Regions from separate parts of the Homo sapiens genome. Here region 1 is linked to region 2. Evidence: fine-mapped expression QTL. A gene starts in region 2. The other region holds a variant in brackets. All regions are shown on one strand. Distances are from middle to middle. Region 1 holds the start of LOC105370910 (a long non-coding RNA gene). Region 2 holds the start of SKIC8 (SKI8 subunit of superkiller complex).

The links.
Region 1: its variant is fine-mapped to the expression of SKIC8 in sun-exposed skin (GTEx, PIP above 0.99). The same link has a PIP of 0.9 or more in neutrophils.

Annotation. Positions count from the first base shown.
Region 1 is chr15:78,273,511-78,285,483 of GRCh38, forward strand. It overlaps DNAJA4 (DnaJ heat shock protein family (Hsp40) member A4), which reads left to right. Exons shown (of 7, transcript NM_001130182.2): 4 at 687-914; 5 at 1,988-2,218; 6 at 6,535-6,635; 7 at 6,735-8,681. The coding sequence ends at 6,950. SKIC8 (SKI8 subunit of superkiller complex) reads right to left here. Exons shown (of 11, transcript NM_025234.3): 10 at 11,751-11,829; 11 at 9,725-10,011. The coding sequence ends at 9,922. It overlaps LOC105370910 (a long non-coding RNA gene), which reads right to left and starts at 5,290. Exons shown (of 2, transcript XR_932500.3): 1 at 4,698-5,290; 2 at 148-1,487. RefSeq lists an enhancer at 3,117-3,411. The variant A/G (reference allele first, on the strand shown) is at 5,066.
Region 2 is chr15:78,294,302-78,306,274 of GRCh38, forward strand. It overlaps SKIC8 (SKI8 subunit of superkiller complex), which reads right to left and starts at 5,308. Exons shown (of 11, transcript NM_025234.3): 1 at 5,261-5,308; 2 at 1,374-1,424; 3 at 645-672. The coding sequence starts at 1,385. RefSeq lists enhancers at 4,506-5,473, 5,026-5,375, 5,474-6,440, 5,616-5,705.

The DNA.
Region 1 (11,973 bases), 21 kb before region 2:
TTTAAAAATTAAAAATCAGACACTTGACCTCATCTAGGGGTTGGCAGACTTTTTCTGTAAAGAGCCAGATTTTAGGCTTTCCAGGCCATGGAGTCTTTTGTAGCTAGTTCACTCTGCCGTCATAGTACATAAATGAATGGACATGCCTATGTTCCAGTAAAGCTTTATTTACAAAACCAAGCAGTCTGGCCATGGTTTCTTGACCCCTGACTTAAATGTATATATAATTATTGTAATTTTTAAAAAACCTGAGTTTTCAAGAAAAGCCATGTCTGGTGACCCCAGCCTCACATTGTCCCACAGAGAGAATTGGCTGAGCTGGGTAGCTGCCACTATTGACAGAGCTTGTGTTGTCTAGATCGCCACAGCCCCAGCCTCCTCATTCATCTGTGGGCCTATGCGAGTTCCACCTGGGGTGGAAGAAAACACATTTGATGAAGCTAAAGTAATAAATTTGGATTGGTGCAGCCAAAATCACAAACGTTTGAGGTCAGATGTTAACATCTGGATGTTGTCTGCTTGGCTGGACTCCTCCAGACTCTTCTGCATTGTTTTTTATTATTGTAAATAGAATTCTAAGCCCATTGTCCAATGTGAGGGTTCCCTACCCTTCTGCCATGGCGCCCAGCAGGGACACTGGTAAGGGAAGAGCATGGCCCTCATTCCTGCCTCCCCTGACCCTGCAGGTGTTGGTGGGAAGAAGGGATCGGTGGAGAAGTGCCCGCTGTGCAAGGGGCGGGGGATGCAGATCCACATCCAGCAGATCGGGCCGGGCATGGTACAGCAGATCCAGACCGTGTGCATCGAGTGCAAGGGCCAGGGTGAGCGCATCAACCCCAAGGACCGCTGCGAGAGCTGCAGCGGGGCCAAGGTGATCCGTGAGAAGAAGATTATCGAGGTACATGTTGAAAAAGGTGAGGCTGCGCAGAGCTGGTGCTCCACACGGGCTGGAAATGCTGTCTGGGTGCTAATCGTGAGATACACAGACTAGATGTCAGGGAAGTGAGCTGTATCACAACATGTATTGGGTGTGCCATGAATTCCTCTTGTTTCCCAGTCTTCTCTTCACCCTTCCTGGCCTTATTTCCATTCCATGTCACCTGCCAAAGTGTTCTTGCTGAGGTTTACTTCCTTGAGATCACAGACAGCCTCTTTATGAGGTTTTCTAACGCTCTGAAAGTCTTACCTGGCCTTGGTTTGGGTTAGTTGCCATCTCCTGACATTCTCAAGCCATTCCTCTAGAATCTTTCGGAGTGTCTTCCTGGTCGCTTCTGATGCTCATTGGCCATAAGGGCTTGTGTAAGTGTTTGTGGCTGCATGTTCCCTTTCTCCACATTTCCCCATGTGCTGCATCAGATTCCCCCAAATACAGCACCTTCTCCTGCTATTCATTTTGCCTGATGCCATCATTTTAAGGCCTTTTTCCATTTTAGCTGTCCTCCAAGTATTCCGATGATTCTGTGGCTTTCCAATCCAGTAAATATATCCTAGATCAGAGATGAGACCAAAAGTAAAAGAATCAACAGCCAAACCGACACAGGTGTTATTAAAGGACTTACTGTTTAAACATGCCTAAACCCTGTGCCTTGAGTGTGCAAGCTGACTTATTAGAAAAGGACAGGGCTGGCTGACCTGTCCCTATCAGTCCCAAGTCATGCACCCTGTGCCCCGGGAAGTGGGCGGTGACCCTATGCTGGTGGTGTGGCATCACAGGCCCTGGGCAGGGAGTGCTGTGTAAACCTGGGATGTAGAGCCGCATTCCCCCACTCCCTGTGCATGCTGGGCTTGGCCCCACATTATGCCAAGGGAAGCGGGACCTCTTCTGTCATTGGCCATCCTAGCCACCCCTCCCTGCCTTGTGCCTGCATGAGGTTGGGAGACTTGATGAATAAAGAATCCCTGAAGGACTCTGTTCCTTCTTCAAAAGCTTTAAGGAAGCATGGTTTGTATGAGAAATGGCTAATCAGAAAGGGATGATGTTTCATAGGTATGAAAGATGGGCAAAAGATACTATTTCATGGAGAAGGAGATCAGGAGCCTGAGCTGGAGCCTGGTGATGTCATAATTGTGCTTGATCAGAAGGATCATAGTGTCTTTCAGAGACGAGGCCATGACTTGATCATGAAAATGAAAATTCAGCTTTCTGAAGCTCTTTGTGGCTTCAAGAAGACGATAAAAACATTGGACAATCGAATTCTTGTTATTACATCCAAAGCAGGTAATGTTTCAAAGTGTGTTTCCATTGATGTTCTGTATGTTTGGCATAATAATTCTGGCAAGTTAGCCTGATTTTTTTATTGCTACATAATATTTTACATATTGATGGGGTGCATGTGATACTTTGTCCCTTGCATAAAATGGGTAATGATCAAGCCACGTGTTTAGGGCATCTGTCGCCTTGAGTATTTATTTCTTTGTGTTGGGAATAGTTCCCCTGATTTCACATTTAAGGTCAAATTCTGTTACACAAATTAGTATGATGTGATTTTCTCTAAATTTAAAACTGTCCCTAATAACTCTGGATAATTTATAAAGTTCTTGTATATTCTCCTAGAAAAAATATTCAGTTGGGGGGAAAGTCTCAAATAAGAATCTTGGGGCTCTGAATTTTAGATGAATTCTGGCAATTAAACTTAAGTTTTTAAAAATTTATTTTTGTATAAGAAAACAGCTTAATAGGTGGTGTTTTTCTATCAAGTGGTGATTTGTGCTGATTCATCCACATGTTCCTGTAGCCTCTGTTGTTCATTACATGAGTTACATTTTAAAATAGAATTTTCCTGTAAGAAAGACTTTGCCTATCAGTTTATCCTTGGAGGTTTCCACAGGAATTGCTGGTCTGCACACACCCATGGGAGCCAGAGGGAGATGCCTCTAGGCCGAAAGGGTTCCTGAGGCCTGAGCTCAGCCCCCAACCCCCCTGTAGACACCAGGGCACTCATCTCCCAGGAGGGTTGGTGTGTTCACTGTAGTTGAGGGTTTGTGTGGGCACCAGAGCACCTGCCTAGAAGGGGCTGAGAAGGGAGAGAGGCCAGGCCAGGGACCTTGACTTGAAGCTGCTTCTGAATAGCACTAAGGTCAGCTGTGCATAGCAAAGAATGTCTGGATGGGTGTGGTGGCGGCTACGCCACCGAAGCAGCCTGGGCCCCAGCACCAGCCATTTGCAGTGTTGCTGTAGTCCCCTCACTGGCCGTGGGGCTGGGATTACCTTTTTCTATGGCCATTTGAGGTTTGGTGCAAAAGGGGTAGGTTCAGGGCAGGCAGGGAGGTAACCACCAATAAGCCTGCCCCCAGGGCAGTGGCAGCTGGAGATAAGACTCAAGTCTGGTGGGGTGACTGAGGCCTGGACTTCTGTTCCCTCCGTGTCCCTCTCCCCCTTCCCCTCCTTGTCTGCTTTTCTCTTCCCAGCCTTGTGCTCTTTTTCTCTTTCCTCTCTTGGATTCTTTCAGGTTCCTCCTTTCCTGGGGATAGTAGGAAGCAGAATTATATATCCAAGCCTTGATCGGTTTGTGGAGTTTTAAAATAAACTTATTTGGAAACAATTTCAAGCTTACAAGAAGTTGTAAATATAAAAATAGTCCGAGGCCCATCCATATATGATTTGTCTGATGTTAACATTTTACCCCATTTGGTTTGTCATTTGATCTGTGTCTGTTTTTATTTATTTTTAAAATTTGTTCATTTATTTTTTGAGACAGGGGTCTTGCTCTGTCGCCCAGGCTGGAGTGCAGTGGCGTGATCTCAGCTCGCTGTAACCTCCACCTCAGCCTCCCGAGTAGCTGGGACAGCCACATGCCACCACGCCCATCTAATGTTTGTACTTTTTGTAGAGACGGGGTTTCGCCATGTTGCCCAGACTTGTGTGTGTTTTTATACATATACTTAATCCAGGATTGGGGGAAGCACTGCAGTATAATGCAAAATTTGCATGAAAATTTAAAATAAAACACCTTCCCTTAGGCTTCCATAGACCTCCCAAGGCACCCATTTCCTCCCTCAAGGAGGAGTTTGAGGATCACAGTTTACACGAAGCTCCAGACCACTGGTTGTGAGCTCAACACCCTGGCATTGTGTCCAAGATGCCCTTACGTGGTCACAGCCCAGATCCTAGCCCTCCTGAGCCGGGGCTGGGAAGCATCTGTGTGTAACTTCTTTGGGAAAGCCTGTCCTGTCCAGGGGTGGACTATTTGAGGTCCTGGGCCCCACCAAGAGCCAGCGTTCCTTGCTGTCTCAGCTGACCCCAGCCTAGGGAGCCGGGAGCCAAATGGAGTGAGGGTGGTGGAGAAAGAGCCCCAGAGGGAAGGAAGTGGCAAATCCCAAGAAATCCATTTCCTTCTTTATTATAAGGAAGGGTGGAGCATCCAGGAAACCTGCCGTTGGAGAGTTCTTTGGGGATTTGTTTGTCCTTTTTGTTTTGTTTTTGTTTTTACTTTGTTCTCTTTTGCACCCTCTCTTTTCTTCACCCCTCTTTTGTGTTGGCTTATTTCTTGTTTCTCCATTTTCTCTTCTCCCTCTTCTTCCTCTTTTCTGCTGTTGAAATGCCTTCTTCCCCAGAGCCTTTTAGCCTGTTATGAGCATTGCTGAGGATTGGATTAATTAAAAAAGTGATTTTGGAGCCACACAAGGGTGTGATGGCCCTGCCTGCAGGCAGGTATTTACCTGCCGGGAGAGCCTAACTCGTGGTCTTCTTCTCTTACCTGTAGTTTTCCATGCTTGGTCAGTTTCCCAGCTCCCAGCAAGCTAGAAGCAGAAGCATGGGGAGTAGGGCTTGAGAGCAGCAAGAAGCGACACCTGATAGGAATGGGGAGACAGAAAAACCAGTCATATGTAACTTAACGAAGGGGATATGTTCTGAGAGATGCATTGTTTGGCGATGTCGTTGTGGTGTGAACACCATAGAATGTACTCACACAGACCTAGATAGCATAGCCTGCTACACCCTAGGCTGTGTGGCATAGCCTGTTGCTCCTGGGCTAAAACCTGCACAGCAGGTTGCTGTACTGAATACTGTGGGCAGTTGTAGTACGATGCTGAGTATGTGAGTATCTGAACATAGGAAAGGTGC[A/G]GTAAAAGTTTGGTGTAATCTTTGCAACCATCTTCATAAATGTTGTTGACTGAAAGGTCACTATGCTGTGCATGACTGTATTTCTTTTTTTTTTGAGACGGAGTCTCGCTCTGTCGCCCAGGCTGGAGTGCAATGGCGTGATCTTGGCTCACTGTACACTCTGCTTCCCGGGTTCACGCCATTCTCCTGCCTCAGCCTCCCAAGTAGCTGGGATTACAGGCACACACCACCATTCCTGGCTAGTTTTTCTATTTTTTTTTTTTTTTTTTTTTTTTAGTAGAGACGGGGTTTCACTATGTTGATCAACCTGGTCTCGAACTCCTGACCTCGTGATCCGCCCGCCTCGGCCTCCCAAAGTGCTGGGATTACAGGCGTGAGCCACCGTGCCTGGCCATGACTGTATTTCAAAAAAAAAGAATAAACAGGAACACAAAAAGCCAGCAGCCTGGAGCAGTTTAGCTAAGGGGTTGCTGTCCTGCACAGTCAGTAGGCTCTGAAGGCCATGTCTGAACCACAGCCCTGCCTGCGAATGAATCTCAAGGATAGTCATTGGCTTACTTTATTTTTAAAACCTCCTCTTTAAAGATTTCCTCTTGAAGAGACAGCTCACTTTCTACATAGTCCCGTATGGAAGTGGACTGCTGAAGAAATTAGTGTTTCCATTCCCCTCCACCGTCTCCCCCATTTTTTCCGAACATTTCTTTCTGTCTTTGTCCATTTTCATCGCTGAGCTGAAGAGCATGCTTTATCAGAAACCCTTTTGTCCCTTTCCTTTTCCATGCTTAGAGGGAAGTTTCTGACTTGGGAGAACGCCTTAGAGTTCTTGGGGTCTGAACTCCTCTGATGCCTTCCAAAGTCACGTAGCTGTAAGACCCAGCGGGTGCCAGCCGGGAGGGTGACTCCAGCTCAGCAGCATGTATGGAAGTGCATTGTGACCATGAAGGAGTCTGCCAGTGGCCAAGCCACCTAGTGAGCTCCCTACCAAGGAACCTGGGTGTCACCTGCAGGTGGCCAAGAGCCAGTTTTTATGCCAGGCAGGGGACTGGTTGGACTCTATTGAGGCTTCTTCCTGTCTGTGGGGAGCACTCCTGTCCCCCTCGTGGTAGGGATACCTGTCACCCCACAAAGAGGCAGGGTGACAGGTGTTGGCCCCATTTTAGGCAGACTTGGGTGTCATGACTTCTAGTTCACTTGTTTTAAACCTACCTGTGATGGCAGCTGCACCATGCTGCCCTCTTGACACACTGCTGGAGCCCAGAGCACAGGCCAGAGTCTCAGCCTGAGCCCCTTCCCCAGGCAGTACCTGACAAGGATACCTGGGATTGGGGCCAGCTTTCCAGTCAGATGCCACGTTTCCTTTGCCCACTGCCACGGGGCACTAGGGCCTGCCGCAGGCTCTCCCATGAGGGAGAACGACCTCTGCAGGCCCCTCTGCCTTCCTCCTTCCTAATTGACCCTTTCTCTGGCAGGTGAGGTGATAAAGCACGGGGACCTGAGATGCGTGCGCGATGAAGGAATGCCCATCTACAAAGCACCCCTGGAAAAAGGGATTCTGATCATACAGTTTTTAGTAAGTTCACTATGTTTCATTGTCATGGACATATTATTAAATGCCTTAATTGGAAGGGGAAAAAACAGCCACCTTTCTTTCCCACCTCACCCTTTACAGGTAATCTTTCCTGAAAAACACTGGCTTTCTCTGGAAAAGCTTCCTCAGCTGGAAGCTTTACTCCCTCCTCGACAGAAAGTGAGGATTACAGATGACATGGATCAGGTGGAGCTGAAGGAGTTTTGTCCCAATGAGCAGAACTGGCGTCAGCACAGGGAGGCCTACGAGGAGGACGAAGACGGGCCCCAGGCTGGAGTGCAGTGCCAGACGGCATGACGTGGTGCGGGGCAGCGTGGCCCCACCGGACTAGCACATGATGAATGTAAAGTTGGCACAATGAAAATGACATCGCTTTAATGGCCTTGTGTTTGGGATGTCCTGTGTATGTGTTCAGCATTCTTAATTGCTGAGTGTCTTTTTGGCTTTTCTTTTGGTTGTAACTTAAGTTATAGCTTAATTTATATTTAAATGTTTTAAGTATAAATCACCTCTAGTCTGCATATGGAATCTGTTCATTTCTATTTTCAGGATATACTTTTGAGATGTCAGTGATTGCACCAATACTTTGTGCTTCTAGTGGCTTTGCCATAATTCAGTGTCACCAATAAGGCACAGCCCAGTTAGCAGCTTAGCCCCCCTAGCAAACCCCAAGGCACAAAGTGGGCATCCTGACTCATCTCTAGGTCTGTGGTTTCTCCCCTCTTCCCTTGGCAGAGTTATTGAGGGCATGATCTCAGGGCTGCTAAGATAACATTTCTGAGGATTCTAGATGATCCTCTTAAAGAATAAAAGCACATCCGTGGATCGGACATGGCTGCATGTGCCTGCTTAACAGGGCCAACTTAGTTCCTACTGTTCTGTGCCCTTCAGTGGATGGAACGTGAGTGTCTGATCATCTCTCTTGGAAGTTTTCTGAACCTTCCAAGCTCTGTGGTGAGGACAAACCAGTGTTTGAATCATATGCTGATAACTGTTTGCCTGTGACCCTCACACCTTGTTCTTCAGGGTTTTAATGATTTTCTGTTGACAACTTTTGCAATGCTTTCCCACCAAAGTGCTTACTTGTAAAGAAAACTAAATCCTTCTGTGTCCCCGGCAGCCTCAGTGCAGCAACAGAAGCCAAGGGAGAATGCTGCTGGTTTGGCCCATGGCACAGCCAGCTTCTCTGACCAGTAATCCGGGGTGACTTGAGGGTCTGCAAAGGCATAGAACTCCCCAGTGTTTTCCACCTCATTCTCCCAGATTGAGCTCCCTTCCAAAGGATCGTTCCTCTCATTGCACAGCCATATTACAAAGGGTTTCCTGCTCAAGTGATGTTTTGGTAAGAACTTCGCTGAGTTCCACTGTGGATTACAGTTTGTATGGACTACTACTGTAAATTATAGCTTGTTTGGAGGGATATTAGTCATTATTTTATTCATGACAGGTAGACTACAATTCGAACTTAGGGTTACCTCAGTCTTTAGCCATTACTGCTTATTTCTTTTCCCCAAGTCACAAAAAACTTGTAAGCTGCTGGGTTAAAGCAGAGGCCACCTGTCAGATCTACCCTACCCTTATTTGGTTACATGGCACCTGAGAGTTTCACTCAGACCAGGGATCTTCCTTAGGAGGGTCAAAGTGCAGATCAGACCATGCAGGTAAGGTGAACCAGCTGCACGGACCAGGTTCCCGCAAAACATTGCCAGCTAGTGAGGCATAATTTGCTCAAAGTATAGAAACAGCCCACCTGTGCCCACTTTGACCATTGGTGAGGATAGATATAAAATCACTTCTTCCAACGAAGCCTAGGTGAAAATCTATTTATAAATGGACCACAACTCTGGGGTGTCGTTTTTGTGCTGTGACTTCCTAATTATTGCTAAAGAACTACTGTTTAGTTGGTAATGGTGTAAAATTACATTCAGCTCCTTCTTGTCATATAAAAGGAATTTGGAGGGTGTCGCTTAAAATTTTATTCCACCTGTACATTTGTCACTTTAAAATTAAAATTGAGCTGGTATGAGAGATAAGTGGCTTTGCTTTTTCCTTTTTTTGAGAGCTCACATAAACAGTGTTAGGTGCCTGCCAGCTTGCCTCTCATTGGTTGACATAATGGAATGAAGTTTCCACCCTCATGGAGCTTTATTTTGGGGGTGGGGGTGAATGCAAACAAAAAGTGGTAACTGCTATGAAGAACAAGAGGAATGGGAATGAGTAGAAGGGAATGGGAAGAAGGCCTCTACCAGGAGCTGGCATCTGGGCAGAATCCTGGATGCAGCTGGGGAGCAGATGTCCGAAGGTCTGGAGGGAAAACATTCCAGGCAGAGGAATGGCAAGGATGATGTGGTTACAGGAGGGTGAGCAAGGCAAGCAGGAGGGAGAAGTGGGGGGCTATGATAAAGAGTGTGAGCTTTATTCTGAGGGCAGTGAGTGGTTTGAGGAAAAGCACATGACCTGACTCATAAGCATATGAAGTAATGATCAATAAAAAACACGCTTCCAAGTGTTCAGCTACTTACATCTTTCTCATTAACATGAGTCTCAAGGGGGCTGATGAAGAGGAAACTCTGAGGTACAGATACTCTGAAATAACTAAGGCAGGGCTACAGTTCTACAGCATGAGGCACAGGCTTCAGCCTAGGCATTGTTAAGGCAGCAAGAATAGCAGCCTGCCTTCCGATACCCACCTAGCGAGTTAGAGACCTCTCTGAAATTAATAAGGGGAAGGAGGGCTTGGCAGGGGACATCTTTAATACATCAAGTGGAAGGATGCCCAGATAGACAGGAGTACATAATGTTCCTATGCAGTCAAATATACTCTTTCCTTCAGGACTCCATTCTAAAATAGATTAGCTTCTTTATCACAGCTCCGGGGAGCTCGCTGCTGTATCTCACTGCATAAGTCAACTCCCTGGAAGAGTCAGCCTGTATTTCTAAGCTGGAAAGTTAAAGAAATACCTGGATCTCTTGATGGCTAAGGCAGAGATTTGCTCTTAATGCCAATCCCTCTCACTGTTTCACTGGTAATAGGGTAACTGAAAAAAGAAGCATGTTCAAGGACACCAGTGTTTGCATTAAGAAAGCTTTATGTTAAAGTATGAACAGCATTTCCAATAAAACATGAAAAGATTCATATTGTATCTACAAAATTTAAGTCTTTGCTACAATAAATGCTATATTTCTTTTAAACAAGCCTAAGAAGGTAAGGAATGTCATGATCAATCCGTACATTCTCTTTGCAGCATAAGCCTGGAGACTTTGATGTTTAAATTGGACAATCATAGATGTGAATTTCCTGGTCATCTCCAACAGACACAATTTTTGAACCATTTCCATTGTATTTTACTCCCCAGACCTGTAAATTTAAAAAAAGATAGTTCTACAAATGCCTTTATTCTTTATAATATTTATGAAATGAACATCCTTATTTTCTCGTTATTCTGAATCTACCAAAACTGAGATGAGGATGTTCTTGTACTTTCTAAATCAGTGAGAATGGAGGCTTTAACCGAGCACCTTCCATTATTGCTATTTAATTAGAATTCCTGCCCCTTCCCATACTCCAAAAAAAAAAAAAAAAATCATTTTTAAATACAGTACTAATCAAGACTATCTACAACCCTTTCAAAGAGTCAGAATCCTGAAGTGTAACCTAATGCCAGGAAGACGGAAGCCATAAGAGACCAACATTTATGCTTCCAGGAAGAAAGAGCCCCACAACTACCCCGAGGTCACTGCCTATAGGGAAAGTCACAAACTGCGCTCCTCAGCTGACCCCTTGTGTCCGCCCCCCACAGTCAGTAATTCTCACTCTGTTATTAGTGGCCTATGGAGCCTGCCTGTCCCCAGGAGCTAGACAACATGATATTGTGGACCATAGATTTTTATTTGCTATGTGTTAAATTAACTGATTCACACCTCCTTCCCAGACAGAATTGATGTGGTTGGAGTTTCTCTAATCATAAATAACTTCCTGATTATTAGGAGGTGATTCTGGGTGGTAAGCCTGTCACCCTACTCTGATTTTAGTGTTGGGATTGGGCTGCATGATGGCCTTTCACTCCAGCCTCTGACACAGCACCGCAATGATCCATACATACAAGGAAACACAGCTAGCCAGGACTTACTCCCTGAGTAAGATGCTTAAATCCAGAAGTGGAATATCAAGATAGAACCCCCTCAATTTTGTTGGGACAATTTAAGTTGAAAAATAAGCATGAACAATGTTAGTTAACTTTAAGTTCCATTTCAAAGAGGAGAAATCTATAGGACCATCTAAAAATATTTAAAATATATTAAAAGCCAATATTATATTGCCATGGACATTTTATTTTTTATGCTCAGTTCCCCAAGACCTTACAGTGTGGTTAGGACCAGCAGCCTTGGCCTCACCTGGAAGCCTGTTAGAAATGCAGAATCCCAGGCCCTCTGCCAGACCTAGTGAAGCAGCATCTGCATTTTCACCAGGTTCCCAGGGGATACGAGCACACATGAAAGACTCAGCAGTATTGCACTAGAACACCTTTGCTATTTCACATATTCACCTTGGCAAAGATAAAGTTGCTTGTGAGAACAGTTTCCTTTTAAAGACTGAAAAGTTATCAATAACACTAAAGCCAAAAAACTTGTATGAATTTCCAGCTTCTACTATATTAAAAAAAAAAAAATCACATCTCTTCTTTGGACAGTCCCAAAAATGACAAGCGATGATTGTGTTTAAGCAATGGAATCTCCTGAAGAGGAAGGTCCTTGGTGAGCCTGCCATGGCGCAGCAGCCCCCAGGAGAGGGCCCCAGACACCAGCTGCAGCAATTTCCAAAGACGGCATTTAAAGGCTGTGGGGCTAACACCATGTTTTCCAGCCTATGTGGGGATATGCCTCGTGAGTTGCTAGGCTGACAGCACATCCCAGCCTCTGCACCCCAGACTCTGCACAGGAACTCTGGCTACATGGATGACTGAGCAGATAGAGCAGCTCAGGCCCAGGCATCTACTGGTATCCACAGCTCAAGCAACAAGGTCAGGAAAAGAAAATCTCTTTGGTACAATGGTCAAACAACCCCGACTATCTAAAGATGAAATAATAATGCCATACCTGATCCTGGTGATCAAAGAAGGTGTGAACACAAGTCCTCGTTCCAACATCCCAAACTTTTACACTTTTGTCAGACGAACTATTTTAAAAAGTGAACATTAGTATCGGTTTGAAGTTGGAAGGACTTCGACCAAAAATCCTTTGATGACTTACATTCTTCTAACTTCAGACCCCCCAACCCCATGCCTCGGTACAGGAAATGGCCAGGTATCAGCATCATTGG
Region 2 (11,973 bases):
TTAGGCCTTCTCAAACTCATCGAGGCTATAGTGAAGAAATGAGATGGGTGAGTAGCCCATGCACAAACATGGCTCCTTTTTGGGTACAAAGCTCTGTACCACTGGTCAGTTACAATCCCAGCCCACTCTGACCTGCCACCTGCTCTCCCATCCCTGCCACTGCCACTGCTGCACAGCTCCCAGCCCTCCCCATGCACTCGGTGGCCTCAAGAGAAACTCATTTCACTATTATAGGCTTCACTTTCATTAAGGGCCAAAGCAAGTTCTGAGTTCAGAAAAAGGCTCACGTTCACCTCCCCAGATGAGCCGGCATTAACAGAGTTTTGAGCCTCAAAGCATTTCCTTCTTCCACCTCAGCAGCTGGGAAGCTCCATCATGTCTTCCTCAGGTGGAAAAATTTTCCTCAGCCTAGAATTCCCCAACCTATCATGATGACTGCTTTTTTTTTTTAGCTGGTTGTTCAGGTTTTTGTTGTTGTTGTTGTTGTTGTCTGTTTTTTAAGAGTATTTGTTTTCAGCTGCCAATTCTTCTGCAAAGTGAGTATACTTGAAAACTGCATGTCTGGTCAGCATGACAAAAGTCTTAAACCAGGGACAACACAGTTTTTTTCACAGATGAATTGCTTAAACAGGCAGGCTACTTACCTTGCTCTTGTTTGAAGAGAATACCGTACTAAAAAAGAACAGAAGCCACATTAAACCCATGGTCAGATTTCAGATGTCTCACATTGCCTCCAGAAAGCACTCCTCCCCGAGTAGACAGAGTCACCACAGTGTTAGTTACTTCCTCTGCTGTCAACCTGGCCATCCCGCAAGCTCCTTGATTCCCATTCATGCAAGATTTGTACAGTCATATCAGAAAAAAATTCTTAAAGAAACTGACATTCTCCCCTCCTTCCTACTACCCAAACTCACTCAACAAGAGACCAATAAATTATGTTTTCTTTTTCTGTTCTGATCACCAAGGAAGCTCAAAGTCCAGTTTGTAGCTTAAATTTTGCAGCTGCAATAAGAACACACAGCCTGCCTAACCGTCTATTAACTTTGTCCCTAATCTTATTACAAAGATATGTTTCTCCTGTTCTATCTCCTATTCTGATCTTTTTTTTTTTTTTTTTGTACAACATCTTTTAAGCTTCTTCTATTACTCACTAAATTGTGGTAAAGACTTGGATGAACCAATCCTCCTCTCAGTATTTGCATTTCACTAGTCCCACCTAACACTGTGGTGACTAGGTACCCAGGGTCACCCAGCTCTTTAGGAGCCAGGCAAGAATGAGATGCTAGTTTCTTGACTACACATCCAGAAAACCTACTGGACTTGAACTTGGCAAAGAGACCAATTGATGTTTTTCCCTTCAACACAGGTCTTACCTGGTTGGTCATTTCCTTAACCAAGGATCAAGGACAAAAGGCCAGACAGCTCTGTGGAAACAACACCAGGATTTCAGTGAGGGGGTGTCATCAGGATAGAAGGCACACAGGAAGTTCCCCTTGACCAAGAAAATAAGGCAACTCTTTATTATGAAGTTGTTCTGACACCCTTCTATGGATCAGTCCCTGGAACCTCCTTCGCACTCCCTACCAGGTGGTATGGTCTTCTTTCTTCCTCTGAACCTAGGGACTCAACTAACAGCTAATTCTATCCCATGGTTTCTTCACCTCAAGTGTGACTGCAGAGAGCGACCAGTCTCTGTCCTTTCCTGCTCTTTAGAGAGAAAAAAACCACAGCTCCTTTTAATATTAAATATTATTTATTAAAAACAAACAAACAAACATGGGGGAATCCAAAGATGGCAAAGTTCTTATTTTACATGCAAAAGTCTCAACCAAAAATGCCTTTAAGAGCCAACAGGCAGGTAAATAAGGGCAGAAGCTGGAGGGAGACACGTGTCAAGAGATTGAGAACATCCTGGCTGACATGGTGAAACCACGTCTCTAATAAAAATACAAAAATTAGCTGGGTGTAGTGGCGCACACCTGTAATCCCAGCTACTCAGGAGGCTGAGGCAGGAGAATCACTTGAACCTAGGCAGCGGAGGTTGCAGTGAGCTGAAATTGTGCCACTGAACTCCAGCCTGGGTGACAGAGCGAGACTCCATCTTAAAAAATAAAAATAAAAAATAAAAAAAAAAGGATAGATCTAATTTCTCAGGCTACATTAAGGGCTAATGGTTCTTATTTCTTTGTGTGTGCCAAAGACCCCCTTTGGCGGACTTTTTTTTTTCGAGATAGGGTCTTGCTCCATCACCCAGACTGGAGTGCAGTGGCACAATCATGGTCAATGCAGCTTCAACCTCCCAGGCCAAGTCTTGCTCCCACCTCAGCCCGAGTGGCTGGGACTACAGGTGCGTGCCAACATGTCTGGATATTTTAATTTTTTGTAGAGATGGGGTCTCCCTATGTTGCCTAGGCTGGTCTTGAACTCCTGGGCTCAAGCAATCCTCCTGTCTTGGCCTCCCAAAGTGCTGGGATTACAGGTATGAGCCACCAGACTCAGGCTCAGGATGTCTTTACAGAAAATACACAGGTTTAGAAATGAAACCAATTACAGTAGGTTCTCATTATTCACAACAATTATGTTCTATGAAGTCGCTACAGACACTAAATTATCCAACACAGAACCACTGTTCCTTGGGGAAACAGGTTCCTGAAAGCCTCTGGGCACATTCTTGTCAACCAATCAATACATAATCATGTTTTATGTGTGTTTATGTTTAAAGGCACTTACTGAATATACATTAGTAATTCATTAATACTGAACTCATGCCTAAACAAAGCTTATCTAACACACATATTTTCTCCATAAGACAAATCACAATCTTCTTGCATTTAGAAGCACCTCAGCACTATGCTTGGGGGCTATCTCAAACAGTGGAATCACCGACAAAAAGCACAAAGATGAGAAAAATGTAGCACCAAAGACTGCAAAAATGACATTTGCTTACAATATGAGAGTTGACAAGAAGGCAGTGTCACCTTGTTTGACTTCAGTTGAGAACATGTGCATCAGGCAACTAAAATTTTTCACGTGAAAAAATGTCATGTCTTCCAAAGACCACAAAAGCATTGTAAGTATTAATTTGAGGGCTACAGACAAATTTTAGTAAGTAGGTGAATTCATAAATACAGAATCCACAAATAATGAGGATAGACTGTATGCTAAAATTTTATCAAAATACAAAAACATATGTGCTTCTTTACTGACACATTATATATGTGATCTAGAAGCAAATTTAATAACTACCATAATTTCGAAGTTGCAATGAGCTTACACAATATCATGATATGAAAATATCTATAATTTATATTCATAACAAAGTCACACTGCTAATAATGTGATTTGTTGCCTACATTCACAGTGGAAGAAAATGCTAAATTTCAGTTGGAGGTTAGGAAACATAAAGATGCAATTTTTCCTCTCAGCCAAGTTCACGGCCCTCGCAATTCTACCCATTGGCAGTTTAAGGGACCACACAGTTAAGGCATCCAGGTTCAGGTTACTTTCTTTAAATCTGCCAGCCTAAAAAGCTGCCGAAGGTTTTCCAATAACAGGAAATCAAACAAACAAACAATTTATAACTAATCCTTGCCTATGAAGATCTCAAATTGGTAGTGTTTTGTTTTGGTTTTGTAAAGACAAGTTCTCATTATGTTGCCCAGGCTGGTATCAAACTCCTGGCCTCAAACGATCCTCTTGTCTTGGCCTTCCAAAGTGCTGGGATTACAGACAGGTTGGTAGTGTTTTATTCATTTGTGACCCATGAACAGGGTTCTTTCTGCCCAGGGTAGGAAAGACAGGAAAGTGCTCAAGCCAGTTTGGCTAATGGGAATGGTATTCAACCTCTGCTTCAGCACAGCCTTCTGCCTGCTGAAGCACAGGCTTGTCCTCTTCCCTGTCATTCTGGGCCTCACATTTGGCAATGGATAGAAACAAAAAAAGGAGGAAGGCTTGCGGTAAGCCAGCTTCCAAAAACCCGGGCTCCAAAAGACAAGGGTGTGATTCTATCAATGAGTGCACATTTGAGGATGTACAATGAATCCGGTCCTATTTTAAGTAATACACAAAGATTTAGCTCACTGAAACCTCATAACCCCGCTTACTAGGTACAGTAGTTCTTTAGCTGAGGTTTTGATTTCCACAGTTCCAGAGGTCAACCGTAGTCCAAAAATAGGTGAGTAGAGTGCAGTAAGATATTTTGAGAGAGACCACATTCACATACATTTTATTACACTGTTATAATTCTATTTTATTATTATTGTTGTTATTCTCTTATTGTGCCTAATTTACGAATTAAACTAAGTAATCACAGGTATGTATGTGTAATCTGTATGAGAAAAAACACAGTATAGATGCTCCTCAACTTACAATGGGGTTACTTCCCAATAAACCTATGTAAAGTTGAAAAATTGTAAGTCAAACCACGGTAAGTCAGTCAGGGTCCTTCACTATCCAAGATTTCAGACATCCACTGGAACGTACACCCCGCAGATAAGGGGGGAACTACTATTTTTTTATTATCAGTTCCACTTTTCTAGTAAGAAAAGGGAGGCTTAGAAGCGGTTAAGGAAGCTTCCCCAAGGGACACTAAAAGGTGGATACAAGCTATAGTATAGGCTACCAAGATACACTACCTCTTACTTCAGGGTCTTATGAAGGTCAGAGCTAAGAGACTTTAGACCTTAGCCCTCTCTTGCCATCTTCTCTCTTTGGGAAACTTTTCCCTAAATTTCCTAGGCAGAATTCATCACTGACTCAGTGTTTCCAAGGAACACTACAGATGCCTCTATGAAACTACTCAGGCAAGTCAACAGCCCACAGTATTGCACGGTACTTGGCGTAAAGCGAACCCAGCCTCTGTCTGTACCCGTCCAGTGATGTCTGTATCTGTCCAGCACGCTACCTAAGACAGCGTGGCCCACTACTGGAAAACTTCGGTTAATACAGCCCTCCCAGCTACGGATAAATGATCTCCTCCGCAGAGAAACCAGCCCTAATCTCGATACTGCCCAGAACATTCTCAGGACGCAAAAGGAGGCCACCCACGGGCCTCCCCCACTCCCCTCAGGCCCCGTACACCGAGGAACAGCCAGGGCAAATGGAGCCATGGAAGCCACCCTCAGGCCCCAGGGCCTGGAGCATCCCTGAACGGACCTGCTTACAGGCAGCCTCGGGCCCAACCTCGCTCACTCGCCCTCTGGCCTGGACTGTCAACGGCCCTAATGACCCCAATCCCCAACGGCCCTGCGCTCCAACTCACCACTGCACTGCCAGGCTGCACGTCGGAAGCCGGGCTCCGCGCGACTGCGACGCGCAAAGATGAGCTATCGAAGGGGCGGGGCATCGCGCCGGCCCCGCCCTCACGGCTCGGAGCACTCCGCAGCGCCCGTTGCCGTCGCTATGGCGGGCGCGGGGCAGACGCCGACGAGGGTGGGCGGAGAGAGGAGGGAGGAAGCCAGGTCCTGCTTCCAGAGGAGTGGTAGTTGGAAATTTGCTTCCGGAAGCGCAGACGTTTAGCTTCCGGCAACTGCAGGTTTAGAGGTTTGTGTTGCAATTTCATTTTGTACTTTTGAGATTGGACTAAAGCTAATAACTTCTGTTGCTGAAATAAATTCAGTGAAATCGAGCTTTGTCTTTCAAACTGCTAGTCATGACCCATTAACGTGACAGATATCAGTTTAATAGGTTGTCAACTGACTTTTTTTTTTTTTTTTTTTGAGGGCCAGGCAGAGTAGCTCACGTCTGTAATCCCAGGACTTTGGGAGCCGAGGTGAGAGGCTTGCTTGAGCTCTGGGTTTCCAGACCAGCCTGGGCAACATAGCGAGAGACCTCGTGTCTACTAAAAATAAAAACAATTAGCACATGCCTGTAGTTCCAGTTACTTGGGAGGCTGAGGCAGGAGGATCGCTTAAGCCCTGGAGGTTGAGGCTACATTGAGCCGTGATGACGCCACTGCACTCCAGCCTGGGGAACAGAACTAGACCCCGTCTCAAAAAAAAAAAAAGAGATGGGGCTGGGTGTGGTGGCTCATGCCTGTAATCCCAGCATTTTGGGAGTCGGAGTGGGTGGATCACTTGAGGTTAGGAGTTTTGAAATCAACCTGGCCAATATGGTGAAACCCCGTCTCAAGTAAAAAAAAAAAAAACAGAAACAAAAACAAAATTAGCCGGGTGTGGTGGCATGTGCCCGTAATCCCAGCTACTTGGGAGGCTGAGGCAGGAGAATCGCTTGAACCCTGGAGGCAGAAGTTGCAGTGAGCACAGATCACACCACTGCACTCCAGCCTGGGCAACAGAGTGAGACTGTCTCGAATAACAACAACAAAAAAAGATGGGAAGAGGCTCATGCCCCATTATGGAGGCCGCCCTGTGGCTCAGATGTGGTGGCTCACTCCTGTAATCCCAGCACTTTGGGAGGCCAAGGGGGGAGGATTGCTTCTGGCCGTGATTTCAAGACCAGTATGGGCAACATGGCGAGACCCAATCTCTACAAAAAATTTTAAAGTTACAGACGCAGTGGTGTGCACGTGTAGACCCAGCTGCTCAGGAGGCAGAAGTGAGGATCACTTGAGCCCAGGAGTTTGAGGCTGCAGTGAGCTATGATTGGGCCACTGCACTGTAGCCTGGGTGACAGAGTGAGACCCTGGCTCTAAAAAATATTTTTCGAAAAAACTAGTTTTGAAGTTCAAATATATATATAGAGAGAGAGACGGAGGACTATTAGACCACTTACAACTAGGTGAAGTTCATCTTTGGGGGCTTTTTTTTCTTTTGAGACTGAGTCTTGCTGTGTCACCCAGGCTGGAGTGCAGTGGCGCAATCTCGGCTCACTACAACTTCTGCCTCCTGGGTTCAAGTGATTCTCCTGCCTCAGCCTCCCCAGTAGCTGGGACTACAGGCACCCACCACCACACCCGGCTAATTTTTTTTTGTATTTTTTTTTTTAGTAGAGACGGGGTTTCACCATGTTGGCCAGGCTGGTCTCAAACTCCTGACCTCAGGTGCTCCACCCACCTCTGCCTCCCAAGTTGCTGGGATTACAGGCATGAGCCACTGCACCTGGCCATCTTTGGGGGCTTTTTGAGGAGGCTATGTGTGGTGAGAAATTGGCAAATACACCCACATCTCCCAGGACCTATTCTCTTGTCCTCAGTAATCTCACATTAACACAAAAGAGAAGACATCCTGCAGCTCTTCTGCTGCACACATGACTTCCCTGCATGCCAGCATCCTTAACCCTCAAGTTCACATGTTTCAGAGTGATATGACTAATTTTTCTCAGTCACATTGACTGGAGAGCTATTTCTCTCCTTCCCAGCTCTGTGACATCTCTGTCCATAGAAATTTCATCCAGCCCCAGTGGACCCTCTGCATGTCACTGGCTTAAAAAGTTTGGGTCAAAGTGAGCAGACTTCAAGACTGAATTGTCAAAATTCTTATGTGGCATCTCTTATAAGTCAAGATATCCTTGTAACCATTCTGGATCTATTGGACCAGGGTCAGGCATGTGCCCCTGAAGCTAAGGAAGAATGTACAAATTATATCATGAAGCCAGTGAGCTGATTTTCAAACTTAGATTGACTTAAGTGCTGACTGGTGTTCGGGCACATTCCACAGAGCTAAATACACAGAAACTGACCCTGCAATGGCTGGGATGTGGGTTCCTGAAGTGTGGAAAGGAATTAACATTAGTACTACAAAGCAATGGCTTTTAGCAGTTAAATGAGTGACCTGCTGCCTTCCTGTATAACCAGTTGCCTTAGTTTTGGCCAATCTGCTGCTTTGTTTTTGTTGGTGACATTTACGGGTTTTTGTGGGTTTTGGAAATAGATTATTATGTAACCTCTCCCACACCGAGATAATTGGGCCATCTTCACTCTAACTTTTAGCTTTTGAATATGAAGAAGTATTTTTGAAAGACTCCTACTTTAAGAAGGGTGAAATTTTGGCTGTCAAAAGTGCTCACAACTGTATGACTAAGTGAATTTTAATTTGTGTGATCTGGGGTTATGTAAGGTTTTTTTTCTTTTCTACACATTAACTTTAAATACCCCACCTTCAAATTATTCTAAAAGCACACTGATCACATTTATGCCTTTTAACTTAAAATTTAATTAAAATTTAAAATTAAAAAAGCATAAATGTGATCAGTGTGCTTTTAGAATAATTAAGCCAAATACTAAGGCTTTCCATTTCTGTTTACTTGCTCCCAAATCTGCTACTAATAATTTTCAATTGAAGCCAGTTGTTTTGGATAAAAATTCAATTAATCATCTCAAAAAAGAGAAATGGAATACATTAAGAAAGAAGTAGAATAGAAGATATAAGAGTGCATCATACATAGTAAAGTTACATCATGTTTTATAAAAACTGTTTCACCCATGCGGTTACTGGGTCACAAGTGAAAATCCATTTCTTGCTATGAGTCATGGCCAAACACTTTGAAAATCATTGTAATAAAGACTTTCTAAAGACTTTCCAGCTTTATAATTCTATAATTATGACAAGAACTCCAAACCATTCATTCAAAAAGGATGTATTAAGTACCTACTTTCACCACATTCCCCCAGAGGGCCAGACATATGGGATCATTGGCATGACCTTAGCATTGGGACTATAAAGCTAGAATAATTGGCCTTTTTTACACTGTGGACGTCTCAGGCATCTGATGAAACCAATGAATCCTGTCCCAGAACAATGGGGTTTTTTGGAAGAAAAAATTTTAATTGCTGTTGCAAAAAAACATCAGTATGGAGTAGAAATTGGTTTCTATGGCATTATTAGAGAATATGTTCTAGAAAGTGGAGGTAACTGGATGTAAGATTCTGGCAGCAGTTTAATAGATAACAGTCCCAGATGTTTAGGTTGAGGCCAACGCCTAATTAGGGTGAACGGTTTGTGCGTGTGTAATTTTGGACAATATCTGGAGAAAGGTTACACTGTGCACAAACCAAATTTAATTTTTTTCACAAGTGTTGTAAAGTTTCTTATAATAAAAGGTTTTTGCTACATGCACTTCATTTTCACATTAAGAGTGTTTAGAATACCTAGACACAAAAGAGAGCATTCATGCAAGATATGCTACTCCTTGATATAATAATGCATACAGTTCAAAATGTTTACCCTTTTTTTTTTTTTTTTTTTGAGACAGAGTCTCGCTCTGTCGCCCAGGCTGGAGTGCAGTGACGCGATCCCGGCACACTGCAAGCTCCGCCTCCTGGGTTCACGCCATTCTCCTGCCTCAGCCTCCTGAGTAGCTGGGACTGCAGGCCCCCGCGACCACGCCCGGCTAATTTTCTTTTGTGTTTTTTTTAGTAGAGACGGGGTTTCACTGTGTTAGCCAGGATGGTCTCGATCTCCTGACCTCGTGATCCACCTGCCTTGGCCTCCCGAAGTGCTGGGATTACAGGCGTGAGCCACCGCGCCCGGCCACTGTTTACACTATTGTTGCAGTAGCTGCTGCCATCACCGGGCTGCGGCAGGGAGGCACAGCTGGGGCTGCATGCTGGTGGATGCCTCCCCCTTCTGAGTTGGGGAGAGCTCCCCAGGTGCTGCTGCAGCCGCCCAAACAGCAGTTGCAGATCCAGGCCTCCTGCTTTACGGAGCAGGCAGGGTCGCCACCCTCCTGGGCGGGGCTACAACTGCCCAAACAGCGGCTGTGGATCCGAGCCTCCCGGTGCTCTTGGAGGGGGCTGGGAGCAGGCAAGATCTGCCCTCCTAGGTGCAGGACCCAGAGGGTCTCTGCAGCCTGCACCCTCGTGGACCCCAGAAAGGACCCCACCGCACCCCGTCGCTAGGGGGTGTCTGTTCCTGCTGCCTGGCCTCTCTCTGCTGCCGCCCCTGCTCTGATCATGGAGCAGGGCTTGGGGCCAAGCCCCAGGGGCCATGAATGACAGTAGGAGGCAGATCGATTCCTGGGCAGAAGGGGGTAGGTCTCCAGTAAGGCCCCACCTTCAGGTCAGGGAGGGACTGAAGACTGGGGACCAGGCTGCCAGTCCCACAGACCTGAGTGGGAGCTTGTGGTGCCTCCTCCAGGCTCACCCATGGCCGCCCATGGGCCAGTCAGCACACACTTCCTCCCTTCTGAGGTCCATAAAAGCCCTGGGCTCAGCCAAACTGCAGGAGAGGATGGAGAGACAGCGGGAAGAGTAGCTGTAGAAAGGAGCTACCCTCTCTGCCAGAGCTGCAGAGACCTGCAGAGCCTTTCAAAGGACCTGCGGAGAGGAGGCCCCCCTCCTCCTGTAGAGACTTCCAAATGACCTGAGGAGAGGATCCCCCAGAACAGCCTCCTTCTCCAGGAGCACCCCCCGCCAGGATCCCCTAGAGCAGTCCCCCTCTCCAGGGTTGGGTCTTCTCTCTGCTGAGAGCAGCCCCCCTCTACAGGGTGAGGTCTTCTTTTTGCTGAGAGCAGCTCCCCTCTCCAGGGTTGGGTCTTCTTTCTGCTGAGAGCAGCAGGTGGCAGGATAACCAGTGGGCAGAGGGGGAGCTACCCTCTCCAGGCCTCCTGTCTGCTGAGAGCTGAACACTCCATGGGATGACTTGCTCAGAGGAGCTACCCACTGCGGGTCTTCTCTGAGCTGCTTAACACTCAGTAAGTTCTTCGAGTACCTCATTATTCCTGGACACAGGACAAGAACTCAGGCAAAGGCGCTCCCAGGAAGAAAATCAATACCTCCCACACCCGTCCAAAGATCCCGTAACACTACCATTACATCTGAGGCTTTCTGCAACTACAAGGGGGTGGTGGAAAGCTTGGCCCTCAGTATCAACATCAAGAAAGCAGCTACCACCGTCTCTGCCTGTTCTCTTTTTGCATTTTTTTCTTTCATTTTTCTTAATCACCTCTGCTATTGCTGCTGCTTAGCAAAACTGGTAAAAACAAAATTGTAATCACTGATGCATCACCCAGATAATCCTCAAATTCCTGCCAGGGAATCCTCTCAGATTCTCTCCAGCGTGCTGTAAAAACCACCGAAGTCATTTGGGCCAGTGCTGGCAGCAGCCCTCCTGAGTCTGAGTTCCCACTCAAAGGTCATGAGATCACAGAACAGCCAGGTGGGGCAGAATAATGTTTTCAAGTACATAAGAACAAGCCACATAGGATTACAAAGGAAACCAATTATATCAAAGTAGTTATCAAAATATTTGTGAAACAGTAGTATATGTGCTTTATTAATGCAGCATGTCTAATATCTTCTGTTATTTTATTTTTGAGACAGGGTCTCGCTCTGTCACCCAGGCTGGAGTGCAGTGGCGCAATCACTGCTCACTGCAGCCTCAATCTTCCAGGCTTAAGCGATCCTCCCGCTTCAGCCTCCCAAGTAGCTGGGACTACAGGCATGTGCCACCATGCCCGGCTAATTTTTGTAATTTTTTTTTTTTTGGTAGAGAAGAGGTTTTGCCATGTTGCCCAGGCTAGTCTCAAACTCCTGGGCTCAGGTGATCTGCCCACTTCAGCCTCCCAAAGTACTGGGATTACAGGCATGAGCCATGGCTCCCAGCCTGTTCTGTAATTTTAAAGTAGCAGTGAGCATAAACAATATTTAGAATTACTTGCAACAGCTGCAATGTGATACGAAAATATTTGTGATTTGTATTGGTGACAAAGTCACAGGTACTACTAATACTCCTAGATTTATTGCATACATTTATAATTAAAGAAGATATTAAATTCCAGTTACAGTTTAAGGGAAATAAAGATATAATTATTTTCCTATCAAAGTTCACAGATCCACGGAATGCCCATTGTAAAGCAAATCTGGAGAGACTTGCCATTGTATGTGACATTTAAACATCTGTAATTAGAGTTCTGGTCTTCCAGGTCAGGAGGAAATGAAAAGATTTTAGAATAAGATAGGTAAACATCCAGGCTAATGATGAAGTAGCTCCAAGATGTAAGGGCTGCCCTGAAAAGCTCTACAATTCATAAAGAGGCCAAGGTTGGGAGGCCCCCTCTAAGGCTGCAGCCCCACAG